Linked DNA regions of Homo sapiens: region 1 is linked to region 2. Evidence: fine-mapped expression QTL. A gene starts in region 2. The other region holds a variant in brackets. All regions are shown on one strand. Distances are between the middles of the regions. Region 1 overlaps PLA2G6 (phospholipase A2 group VI). Region 2 holds the start of PLA2G6 (phospholipase A2 group VI).

Region 1 (5,371 bases), 54 kb after region 2:
GTCCCAAGAAGAGGAAGGTGACAAGGCCAGAGCCCACAGTTCCAGGTGGCCAGTGTGTCCTCTGAAACCATGCCATGCTCTGCGCCCCTGCCCGGCCTCCAGGTGTGGAAATGTGTGACGTTCTTCGTGGGGACACTCCCCCGAAGGCTGCCATTAGGGGCACGTGTGTTCGGTTACCCCTCAGGGATGACACCCTGGACTGGGTGGGCAAGATGGCCTTCCCTGCCCTCACCCACCCTCTCCTTGCTACTCCTGAAAGCCATCAGCAGCTGACCTACTGTGTCCCCATGGCTCCTGGGTCGGGGTCACAGATGCACTGCATCTTTGGAGGCGGAGCTGGCAGAGCAGGGGCGAGTCACTTCTAGTTTCTGCCTGGGTTCTTACACCCTCCCCTGTGGGTGCTTTTAAGCCTGTTTGTCAGGTCCCCAGCCATCAAATGGCAGACTTTGGACTACCAGATTGACTTGGGTGGGGGTGAGGAGGGTTCCAGTGTCTCCCCGTGCTGAGGAGAGGCCCGCTGGGTGAGTTGACAGGTTGGGGCTGGCAGCCAGGGGCCCCTTTGTTCTTCACTTCCCCGGCAGTTGCACGTCTTATCCTCTCTCCATCTCCAACAGAAAGACAACGTGGAGATGATCAAGGCCCTCATCGTGTTCGGAGCAGAAGTGGACACCCCGAATGACTTTGGGGAGACTCCTACATTCCTAGCCTCCAAAATCGGCAGACGTATGTGCTCTGCACTCTGGGGCTGGAGTGGGGTGAGGGTTGGGTGGATACAGGGACCGAGGAGGAGGGAAGTCCCAGGCATCAGGTGCCAGCATCCTGTGCTGACCCGCCCTGCTCAGAGCTGCCAGGAGCACCTCGTACTCAGAGAGGGGGCTTCCTTACCCAAGCACAAGGGCCCTGAGCAGTAGATGCAGGCCCACCACGGGGCTTGCTATACCAGCATCCTCTCCCGTGCAGCGCCCCCCACCTCAGGGAGCTAAGATTCCCAGCAGGGGTGGGGACAGGAGAGCCAGCAGCAGCCTTCTTTCCCCACCGTTGGGGAATTCACTGATGGAACCACTGGCTAGAATGACCAAGGGTGCATGCACTACACTGCACGAGCTCTGGGCATGCCTGTGTGGGCAGAGTGCATGGCCATGTGCTGCACGCTCGCACAGTGAGCCTTAGCTTCAGAGCTGGACAGAGCAGATCCTCCTCACCAGAGGCCTGGAGCCCGCTCTGGAGGGTTTCAGCAGCTGTGGGGGTCACTGTGGGCAGGTACCTGATGGCAGCAGTGTGTGTGTGCCAGTGCACACGTGTGTGTCTGCATGCACCGCATCTATGACCTCCTTTTCAGCAATCCCATCCATCAAATGGAGTAGGTGCCCCCTGGCTGGCTCATTAGTCCCTTTGGAACCCTGAACTATCACTTAGCATTTTTGAGAATCACTGAATGTGGCCATGGGATTCCTGCTTTCTTGGCTGGAGTAGAAGGAAAGAAGGGGTTCCCACAGGCATCGGGCAGGGTGACACTGACCTCCTCCTCCCATATCCTCCTTCCCTGGCCTTAGGAAGCTGCTTGGGATGTACCAGCCTGGGGGCAGCACTCCCTGTCAGGGTGGGCTGAGGCCTCTGGAGCAGCCCACGTGCCCAGGGCCTGGGAGCTGGGACAGGGGACGGAGTGTGGAAAGGAGGGGCCTCTCCTTTGCATGTTGACATCATTTCTGATCCTGTGCCATCTCCCCTTCCCCAAACCATGACAAGTTGTCACCAGGAAGGCGATCTTGACTCTGCTGAGAACCGTGGGGGCCGAATACTGCTTCCCACCCATCCACGGGGTCCCCGCGGAGCAGGGCTCTGCAGCGCCACATCATCCCTTCTCCCTGGAAAGAGCTCAGCCCCCACCGATCAGCCTAAACAACCTAGGTAGGCCTCGCCTCCCGACTCCCTCTTCTCCAGCTGGTTCCCAGGCCCCTGGATCACAGCAGGCCCCACCAAAGCAACAGGATCCCTAGGACGGAAGTCACTAAAGGAAGCCGGGGAGGATGGGGCCGGAGTTGTCAGCCTCTAGGCAGCCAGCAACCCACAGATCCCAGAGGCCTAGGGTGTCCCTGGCTGATGTCCCATGCTCCGTTGCCCCTGAGAGGATGTGTCCTGCACACAGTCTCAGGCCTGGGCATTTCCAGTGGCACCCATGAGGTGGCTGCTGTTACTGCCCTCCTGTCCCCAGGGCGTTCAGGGTGGGCAGTGAGGAGTGCTGTCGGGGGACTGGGGGCCCGGGCCCTCTGGCTTCACCTGTCCCTCTGGCTTCACCTCTATCACACTGTTTGAATCTCGGTTGGGCCTGAGACCTGTGTGCCCCCTTCCTGGCCCCGTGGTGACTTTCAGACGTTGAATGTGGCCAGGCAGCCAGCATCTGCCCCGGTGCATTCCTTGGTGCCCAGGGAGACATCCCCAGACTAGACAGGACCCTTCTCTGGACTTTCTGTGGGCTGGCCCACTCAGGGACCTCCATTGTTTGGGAGCGGGGTCCCCTGAACAGAGGGCAGCCAGGAGCCAGTCCTTGGTGAGCCAGACTTCACTGTGGAGGCGGCAGCACCTTCAGCCAGGGTAGCCCGACCAAGCCTGGAACTCTGGAGAGGCACCGTGACTGTGGCTTCTAGTCCTGGCTCCACCTCTCTCTCCCCTCCCAGGAACTCCCCCTCCACCTCCCATCTTTATCTCTCAATTTTGCAGGCAGTCACCCAAGCCAGGCCGGATGGTGGGCCTGGGGTGCGGCGTCAGATGGGTAACGCCCTGGGCCTGGAGAGGCCACCGAGCCTAGCCATGCGGCATTAGCTCTAGCTCTCACTCCCTAATCCGTCCTTCTTAGCTGCGCACACACCACACGCCCCCTCCCCTGCACCCTGTCCCCGGCCTCTCTCAGCCACTCTTCTGCTTCCCTTGTTCACTGTGGAGCCGTGTGCCCTGGGGAGGGGGAGACACCGCTTCGCAGCCCTCGGTTCTGCTTTGCTGCTTCTAGACTCTGCACAGTGGTGGGGGGCTGTCAGAGTTGGGGTCACGCGGGCTGCTGCACCAGGCACCTGGGGACTGGGCTGCTTGTCAGGAGGGGCAGCTAGTCAGTTGGGTGGACGTCAGGCAGGCCTTGGACACAAAGGAAGACATGGACAGAGTGGATGGTGGGCCTGATCCCGGAGGCCACTGGGATTTCCAGACCTGGGATCAGGACGAGGGATGTCTCCTTTCATCCATGGACTTAAACCCCGAGGAACGTCCTGACTCAGCCTTTTGACTAAATGACCTTGGGTGAATTATGGACCCTCTTAGAGCCTCACCTGTCAATAGGGAATAAGAATTCTTAGGCCCCAGGTGGTTATTGCAGCATCGGCTCCGATGCAAGAAGAAGCACTTTGTCTGAAGAG[G/A]ACACGCAAGGGTATTCATGCCTTGGGGTTTCAAGAGGAAGAGATTGAGGGGAACCTGGGAGCTGGCTGGGCAGGGTGGGGAGCCCTTCCCAGAGCAGTGGGCCCCCCTTTCCACTCCAGCCCATTTCTCTCCTGTGGCCTGTGGCTCAGCTTTCTCCTGGGACAGAGTCCTTCCTGTGGGGAAGGGACAGATGACAGGGGGAGTGGGGGGATGAGGGCGTGGCCGTGGGCGAGGCACAGCCCAGGTTTGATCTAGGGACCTCTGGGGTAGCAGGGCTTGGGGACCCACCTGACCACAGCATGCCCTGCTCTGTGCCTCACAGAACTACAGGATCTCATGCACATCTCACGGGCCCGGAAGCCAGCGTTCATCCTGGGCTCCATGAGGGACGAGAAGCGGACGTAAGTGGATCGAGATCGGGGGCAGAGCGGGGAACGTGTGCGCTTTCCTGCCCCTCACCCACCCCCTGTTGTGGGCTCAGGGCTTTACTCTCTGCACCCTCACAGCCGGCGAAGTGGCTCTGCTCCTAGTCTTATAGTTCTCAGCAGAGACAGAACATGGAGAGCCTGTGTCGCTCGTTCATTAATGCTGGGCGGTGCAGGCTCTGGAGACCAGCCCAGGGTGCCAGGCTTCTTGGACTTGGTGGGGCTGGCGCAGTGTTCTGGCCTCCCTCCCTGATCTCCTTATGGCTAGAAGAGGGGGAGATGCCTGGGTCCCCCCTGGGGAGATCTCAGCAGCTGCTTCCCACTGCTCCTACTGGCTTCCTTAACCACCTCCCACTGCAGAATAGTGGCGTGGGCTGCCTTCCCCAGCACCTGCTGTATACCTAGTCCCATTGTAAGAGGCGGGCCTGGGTGACAGGATGCAAAGAGAAGACGCCCAGGCCTTGCCCTTCAGGCATAATCCCGGGTGCTTGAACTCAGTGCCAGCTGGCACGGCAAGGTACCAGGACAAATGCGTTTCCAGCCACTGTGCTGTCGCCACCTCCCTTGATTGCTGCAGTTGATTCATTTATTCTTTATTAGTCTCTCATGTTCCTAATAGCCTTCCCAGGGAGGAATTTGTAACCTTGTTTTACAGATGCAGAACCTGAGCCCCTGAGAGGTGAAGTGACTTGCTCAAGGTCACACGGAGTGAGTGTCAGGGTGGCAACTCACAGCCGGGTCTTCCGAACCCACGTCCTTTGTGCTACCGCAGGCTCTCTCTGGGTTCTCTGTGGACTCTATACCTAGTGCCAGCCCTCTGCAGGGAAAGCTCTCTTCTCAGAATCAGAGGCAGCTCCACTCCCAGGGCCAGGCAGTGATCGTGCAGCTCTGTGGGTCCTCTCACTTCGCACTCACTTCCATGCTACCCTGTTGTGTGCCCTGGAGGTTCCCCTGCCCCATCAGCATTCCCTCCCCTGTGCCCCCTGCATGCTCTTGCACGCGGGCACACGCACACACACACGCACACATGCACGCACACACACCCACATGCACATGCCTGCGGGTTGCCCACATGCATGTGTTGCCCACATGCAAACACATGGACACGCACACACATGCACACATGCAAACACACGTGCATGCACACACATACACATGCGCACACATACACATGCATGCATGCACATGGACACCCACACACATGCACACACATGTACACACATGCATGTACATACACACACCTGTGCAGGGGCTGAGGTGAGGCAGCTGCACCTGAAGGGGGGACCCACATTTCCCAAGGGAGGAAAAGCAGATTCCCCAGATTCTGGAGCCTCAGAACCCTGCCTGGAGCGGGGCTGAGGCAAGAGTCAGGAGACCCCTCGGTAGCTCCCCACTTGGGCCTTCCAAGCTACAGAGCCCTGCGCCCTCTGGGTTGATCTCTGTCGCCAGCCCCGCATCTTCGGGAGTTTGCTTTGGCCTCCAGCAACAGTGTAGTCTCTCCCCTGCCACCTCTAGGCTTGCTGTGGGGCTGGGTACCTGGT
Region 2 (5,371 bases):
TTTCTCTCCACTTCAAGCTGAAACTTTTTTTTTTTTTTTTTTGAGACATGGTCTCGCTCTGTCACCCAGGCTGGAGTGCAGGCGATCTTGGCTCACTGCATCCTTGACCCCCCGGCCTCCCCTGCACAGTAGCTGGGACCAAAGGCATGCAAGACCACACCTGGATAATTTTTGTATTTTTTTTAAAGACGAGGTTTCTCCATGTTGCACAAGCTGGTCTTGAACTCCTGAGCTCAAGTGATCTGCCCACCTCGGCCTCCCAAAGTGTTGGGATTACAGGCGTGAGCCACTGTGCGCAGTCAAGCTGAAACTCTTAAGCAAATTTTAAATCTTACTTTAAGGAACAATTTCCTCACCTGTAAAATGGGGACACGAGGATATGATGGAAGTGAAGTCACTTTGTAACTGGTAAAGCTCTGTACAGATATTAGTTAAGATGGTTAATTTCATTAACCTGTGAAGATTCTTAACTAAACCTTGCGCAAGTTGCATTGGCTGCCCTGTCTAGGCACTAATATCTTTAGACGGACTAAGGAGGAAACACACTTTTTTTTTTTTTGAGACAGAGTCTGGCTCTGTCACCCAGGCTGGAGTACAGTGGCATGATCTTGGCTCACTGCAACCTCTGCCTCCTGGGTTCAAGCAATTCTCCTGCCTCAGCCTCCTGAGCAGCTGGGACTACAGACTATGGCCAGCACACCCAGCTAATTATTTGTATTTTTAGTAGAGATGGGGTTTCACCATGTTGGTCAGGCTGGTCTCAAACTCCTGACCTCAAGTGATCCACCCGCCTCAGCCTCCCAAACTGCTGGGATTATAGGCGTGAGCCACCGCACCCGGCCTACACGCTTCTTTTCACAAGAATGACACCCGCAACTATACTTCCCACGTAAATGGAGAGCAGTCTGGCAGATTCATCTAGACCTAGGGTTGGGTGATTATTAGGGAAAGAAAAGGTCCAACCAAGCCAGTGGGCTGAAGAGAGGACATGACCTGCTCAGTCCGAAGCAGATGTGTGACTAAAGTCTAGTCTCCTGGCTTCTCTGCAAAATACCTCATTATCGGCATTATTAACCCTAACAACTGCCATTTATTGAAATCCCACTATGTGCACGAATGGGGACCAATTTACTTCTAGATATTACAACAATCTTGTATTACTGTGCCCACTTCCTGGATGATGGGTCTGAGGTTCACAGAGATCATTTGCCCAAGTTCCTACTGAAAGTGCTAAGGTATTTCCTGAGACTGGCTCAGGGTGTGTTGCCAGACAACAATGCACACATTTTTAACACAATACTAAACTTAGTATATTATACTTATGTTAAAAATTTCGGAGCCGGGCGTGGTGGCTCACGCCTGTAATCCCAGCACTTCGGGAGGCTGAGGCGGGCAGATCACTTGAGGTCAGGAGTTCGAGACCAGCCTGGCCAACATGGTGAAACCCCGTCTCTACTAAAAATACAAAAAATTAGCTGGGCGTAGTGGCGGGCGCCTGCAATCTCAGCTACGCGGGAGGCTGACGCAGGAGAATCGCTTGAATCCGGGAGGCGGAGGTTGCAGTGAGCGAGATCGTGCCACTGCACTCCAGCATGGTCGACAGAGCGAGACTTGTCTCAAAAAAAAAAAAAAAAAGGACATGTGGTAATTCCCCTAGGGAATTTGGCCTTAGTTGTGAAAAATAAAAAAGCTATAATCAATTTCTGTTCTATCGGAAAAAAATGTATTGGCTGTTTAGCTGAAATTCAAATGTAACTTAACATCCCGTATTTTTTATATGCTACATCTGGCAACCCTGGCTTGAGGCTACCTGGCAAAAATCAAAACAGGTTCCTCCTTGTTATGCCCTATGCCTCTGTTGCCTTTATTTTTATCTTTACGAGCAATCATTAACAGTAACTTCAGACTCCAGGCTCTGGTCGCTTTAGGAGGCGGAAGGCGGACTAGGGTAGGACTCCTGGCCCTCATCAACAGGACTGCCAAGAAGCCGGGCACCTTCTGCCCCGCACAAACATGGCCGCGCCTCGCCGCCGAGGATTGGCTCCCGCCGAAAGCTCGTCCTCCTGGCTAAGGGAGCCCCTTCCATTGGGCAGTTAAAAAAAATGGCGGACCCCGCCTCCCGCCGTCCTCGGGCGCGGGGGCGGAGCCTAGAGGAGGCCTGGGACAGGGCCACCAGTGATTGGCGGAGAGCGGTGGTCAGGCCATCACGTGGCCCGAGGCCCGTTTGTTTGCGGAAGTAGGAGGAAGTAGAAGTGCTGAGTAAGCCGAGGTGAGTGACCTCGCGGGTGGGCGGGGCCTGGGGGTCCGTTCCCCAACTTCCTCGGCGCTCCGGACTCCCAAGTCTCCGCCGGACCCTCCTTTGGATATTCCTCGTGTCTCCGATTCTGAGGCATGTCCTCCATTAACCCTTATGTGACTCCCTGAGTGCCCCCACCTTCCATCTTTTCATCCCCCTGCGTCCCCAATTCCCATCCCGAGACCGCCCGTGTCTCATCTCGAACTTGTGGACCCCAGGGACCCCAGCTTCGACCCTGAGTTTCTCCCCTGAACCCCAGTCTCCTCCGTGTGTCTCCCTCAGTATCCCTAACTTCCCGAGTCAATCCATCTCTTCTCTTTCCCCGACCCTCAGTGCCTCTTTAGGCCCCATTGGCCGTCCTAATTTTCCTTCCTGTGCTCCTCTAAGTGCTCACTTGATTCCCCACTTCACGTCCGTCTCCACCTTTCGTGGTGCCTCTACTCATTTCTCACTCCCTGCTTCTCCTGCCTTTCCTCCCTGCTTTTTTTCCTTGCCTTTCCTCTCTCGCGTGCCTCCAGACCTGCCCCCGACATGCTCCCTCCTTCCCCTCAGCCTGGCCACCCCAGAGTCTCCCACCCCTAATCCTGTGTCCACCTCCTGCTCCCACAGATGACTTGGAAGCTGGTGACAGGGAGCATGTGACCAGGGTGATCATGGGACTGGGTCGGGGCAAGCCTGTGGGTGTGGGACAGGGAGGGCACAGGGCAAGGGGACCTGTGGCCGTATTTTTAATGGGCTACCCACATGACCCCAACGAATACCTCCCCCTAGCTTCTGGGTCTTTCCCTCACCTGCCTCTTACCCGCCCAACAGGATGTCAGGCAGGTTCGGTTTGGCAACGTTGAGGCTGCACCCTTGGGCTGAATGCATTGTTTTTGAATGCATTGTTTTTGTTAGAGTTTCTGCCTGGAGTTTGGAACCTGTTTTCTGTCCAAGTCTCAGTTTCCTCATCTGTGACAGGGGAACTGTACCTCCTGCCCTCGTAAGTCTGCCATGAGGTTCAAAATTTGAATGAGAAAATGTAGAAGGTAAAGCTTTATAACCAGTATGGCCCTGTACAAATACATGATTTTACTGTTGGGTCATAGGCAGAATTGAAAGGAGTGGAAAGGGAAAGGGCTAGAATGAGAAGACAAGGAGAGAAGGATGAGCAGGAGGTCCCTTGTCTTTCAGTGTATCATTTGGCAGTGTTTGTTCATCACCTCTTGTGAGTCAGGCTCTTCTGTATATGTTCTCTTCACCATTCATTCAGTCATCGTTTATCTAACAAATATTTACGGACTGTCTGATGTTCTAGGCTACCCTTGGTGTGGCCAATGATATTCTCACTTCACATGAGAAAAAGAGGGCGCATGAGTTGCTTGAGGTCACACCGATGAGGTTGAAGCTGGAATCTGACACCAGAGCCTGTGTGATTGTCCTGATGTGTAAGGTTTGCTACTGTTTAGGACACTTCTTGTTCCTTCCGTGGATTACTTTCTTGTTACATGAGAGACTCCCCAAAAGGGAGTTTCCCTCTTACTCAGCAGAATGACATCACTAAGAGATACAGAAAGGAGAAATTTAAATACTCTGTGTGTGTGTGTGTGTGTGTGTGTGTGTGTGTGTGTGTGTGTCTGCAGACATCTATTGGGTGTGTGTGCTGGGGGAAGTAGGTAGGCAAGGAGTAAGGGGCCGTAGTGAAGAGTGTGTTACAAACTTCACTTTGTAGAGGGTGGCTCCCTGGGAGAATATGTTCTGTGTCTTTCACAGTGGATTTTGATAGGGTCATGTCTTAAATGCCTCTTCTCGTTTTCGGATGGTGATCTCATCCAGTCTTATTTCTTTAAGTGCCGTCTCTATTCTGTCAGCCCACAAATTTATATCCCCAGTCCAGTCCAGACCTTTCCCTGGAATGACATACTCAAATCTAGTTGCTTACTCAGCACCTCAAACTTAGGCTTTTCAAACTTGAAGTATTTATTTATTGATTTATTTATTTTTTGAGACAGAGTCTCACTCTGTCACCCAGGCTGGAATGCAATGGCACGATCTCGGCTCACTGCAACCTCCACCTCCTGATTCTCCTGCCTCAGCCTCCCAAGTAGCTGGGATTACAAGCATGCGCCATCATGCCCAACTAATTTTTGTATTTTTGTAGAGGCGGGGTTTCACCGTGTTGGCCAGGCTGGTCTCGAACTCCTGATCTCAAGTGATCCACCTGCCTTGGCCTCCCAAAGTGGTGGGATTACAGGTGTGAGCCACCGCGCCAGGCCTCAAACTTAAGAGTTTAGAATTGAGCTCCTGTTAGTTCTGCCCTCCATCCCTGACCCCACTCTTCACCAAAACATGTCCCTCCCACTCTCTTTCTCATCTTAGGACATAGGAGTATTGTTCATTCAGTTGCTCAGGTCAAAGCTGTGAGATTATCTATGATGCCTCTCTGTTTCTTACCCCACACCCAGCCAGAGTGATCTTGTTAAAATGTTGTTTCTTTGCAGTGGCCTCTCCTCTCATGGCACATGCCTGGCCCCCTGTTGCCTCTCTGATGTCACTGGCTTCCTTGCTTTTCCTGGAACTCGCTAAACATGTTCCAGCCCCATGGCCTTTGCACACGCTCTCTTTGCCTAGCTATTCATATGACTTTCATCTCTCTCCATCAGGTATTTATTTAAGATCAATTTCTTGGTGAAGACTTCTCTCCTCACCCAATCTAAAATTTCACTCTCCACCTCAGCACTTCCTATCCCCATTCTCTGGTTTTTCTCCTCAGTAGTTAATTGTCATCTAAAACCTTTGTAAATATTTACCTGTTTATCTTCTTTATTATTAGTAGCTCTGTCTAAAATATAAGTTCCAGGATGTCAGGGATTTTGTGGGGTTTTTTTTGGTTGGTTGGTTGTTTTGGTTTTGAGACAGGGTCTCACTCTGTTGCCCAGGCTGGAGCGCAGTGGTGCGATCTCAGCTCACTGCAGCCTCCGCCTCCTGGGTTTGAGTGATTCTCCCACCTCAGTCTCCCAGGAAGCTGGAATTACAGGTGCACGCCACCACACCCAGCTAATTTTTGTATTTTTTGGTAGAGATGGGGTTTCACTA

What was found. PIP is the estimated chance that this variant, and not a neighbour inherited with it, causes the effect.
Region 1: its variant is fine-mapped to the expression of PLA2G6 in whole blood (TOPMed, PIP above 0.99).

Annotation. Positions count from the first base shown.
Region 1 is chr22:38,124,806-38,130,176 of GRCh38, reverse strand. PLA2G6 (phospholipase A2 group VI) reads left to right here. Exons shown (of 17, transcript NM_003560.4): 8 at 615-723; 9 at 1,747-1,908; 10 at 3,728-3,806. Among named protein-coding and RNA genes, the nearest start is that of BAIAP2L2, 17 kb to the right of the region's middle. The variant G/A (reference allele first, on the strand shown) is at 3,405.
Region 2 is chr22:38,178,682-38,184,052 of GRCh38, reverse strand. It overlaps PLA2G6 (phospholipase A2 group VI), which reads left to right and starts at 2,223. Exons shown (of 17, transcript NM_003560.4): 1 at 2,223-2,389. RefSeq lists enhancers at 1,951-2,060, 1,977-2,271, 2,221-2,670, 3,301-3,370, 3,651-3,820.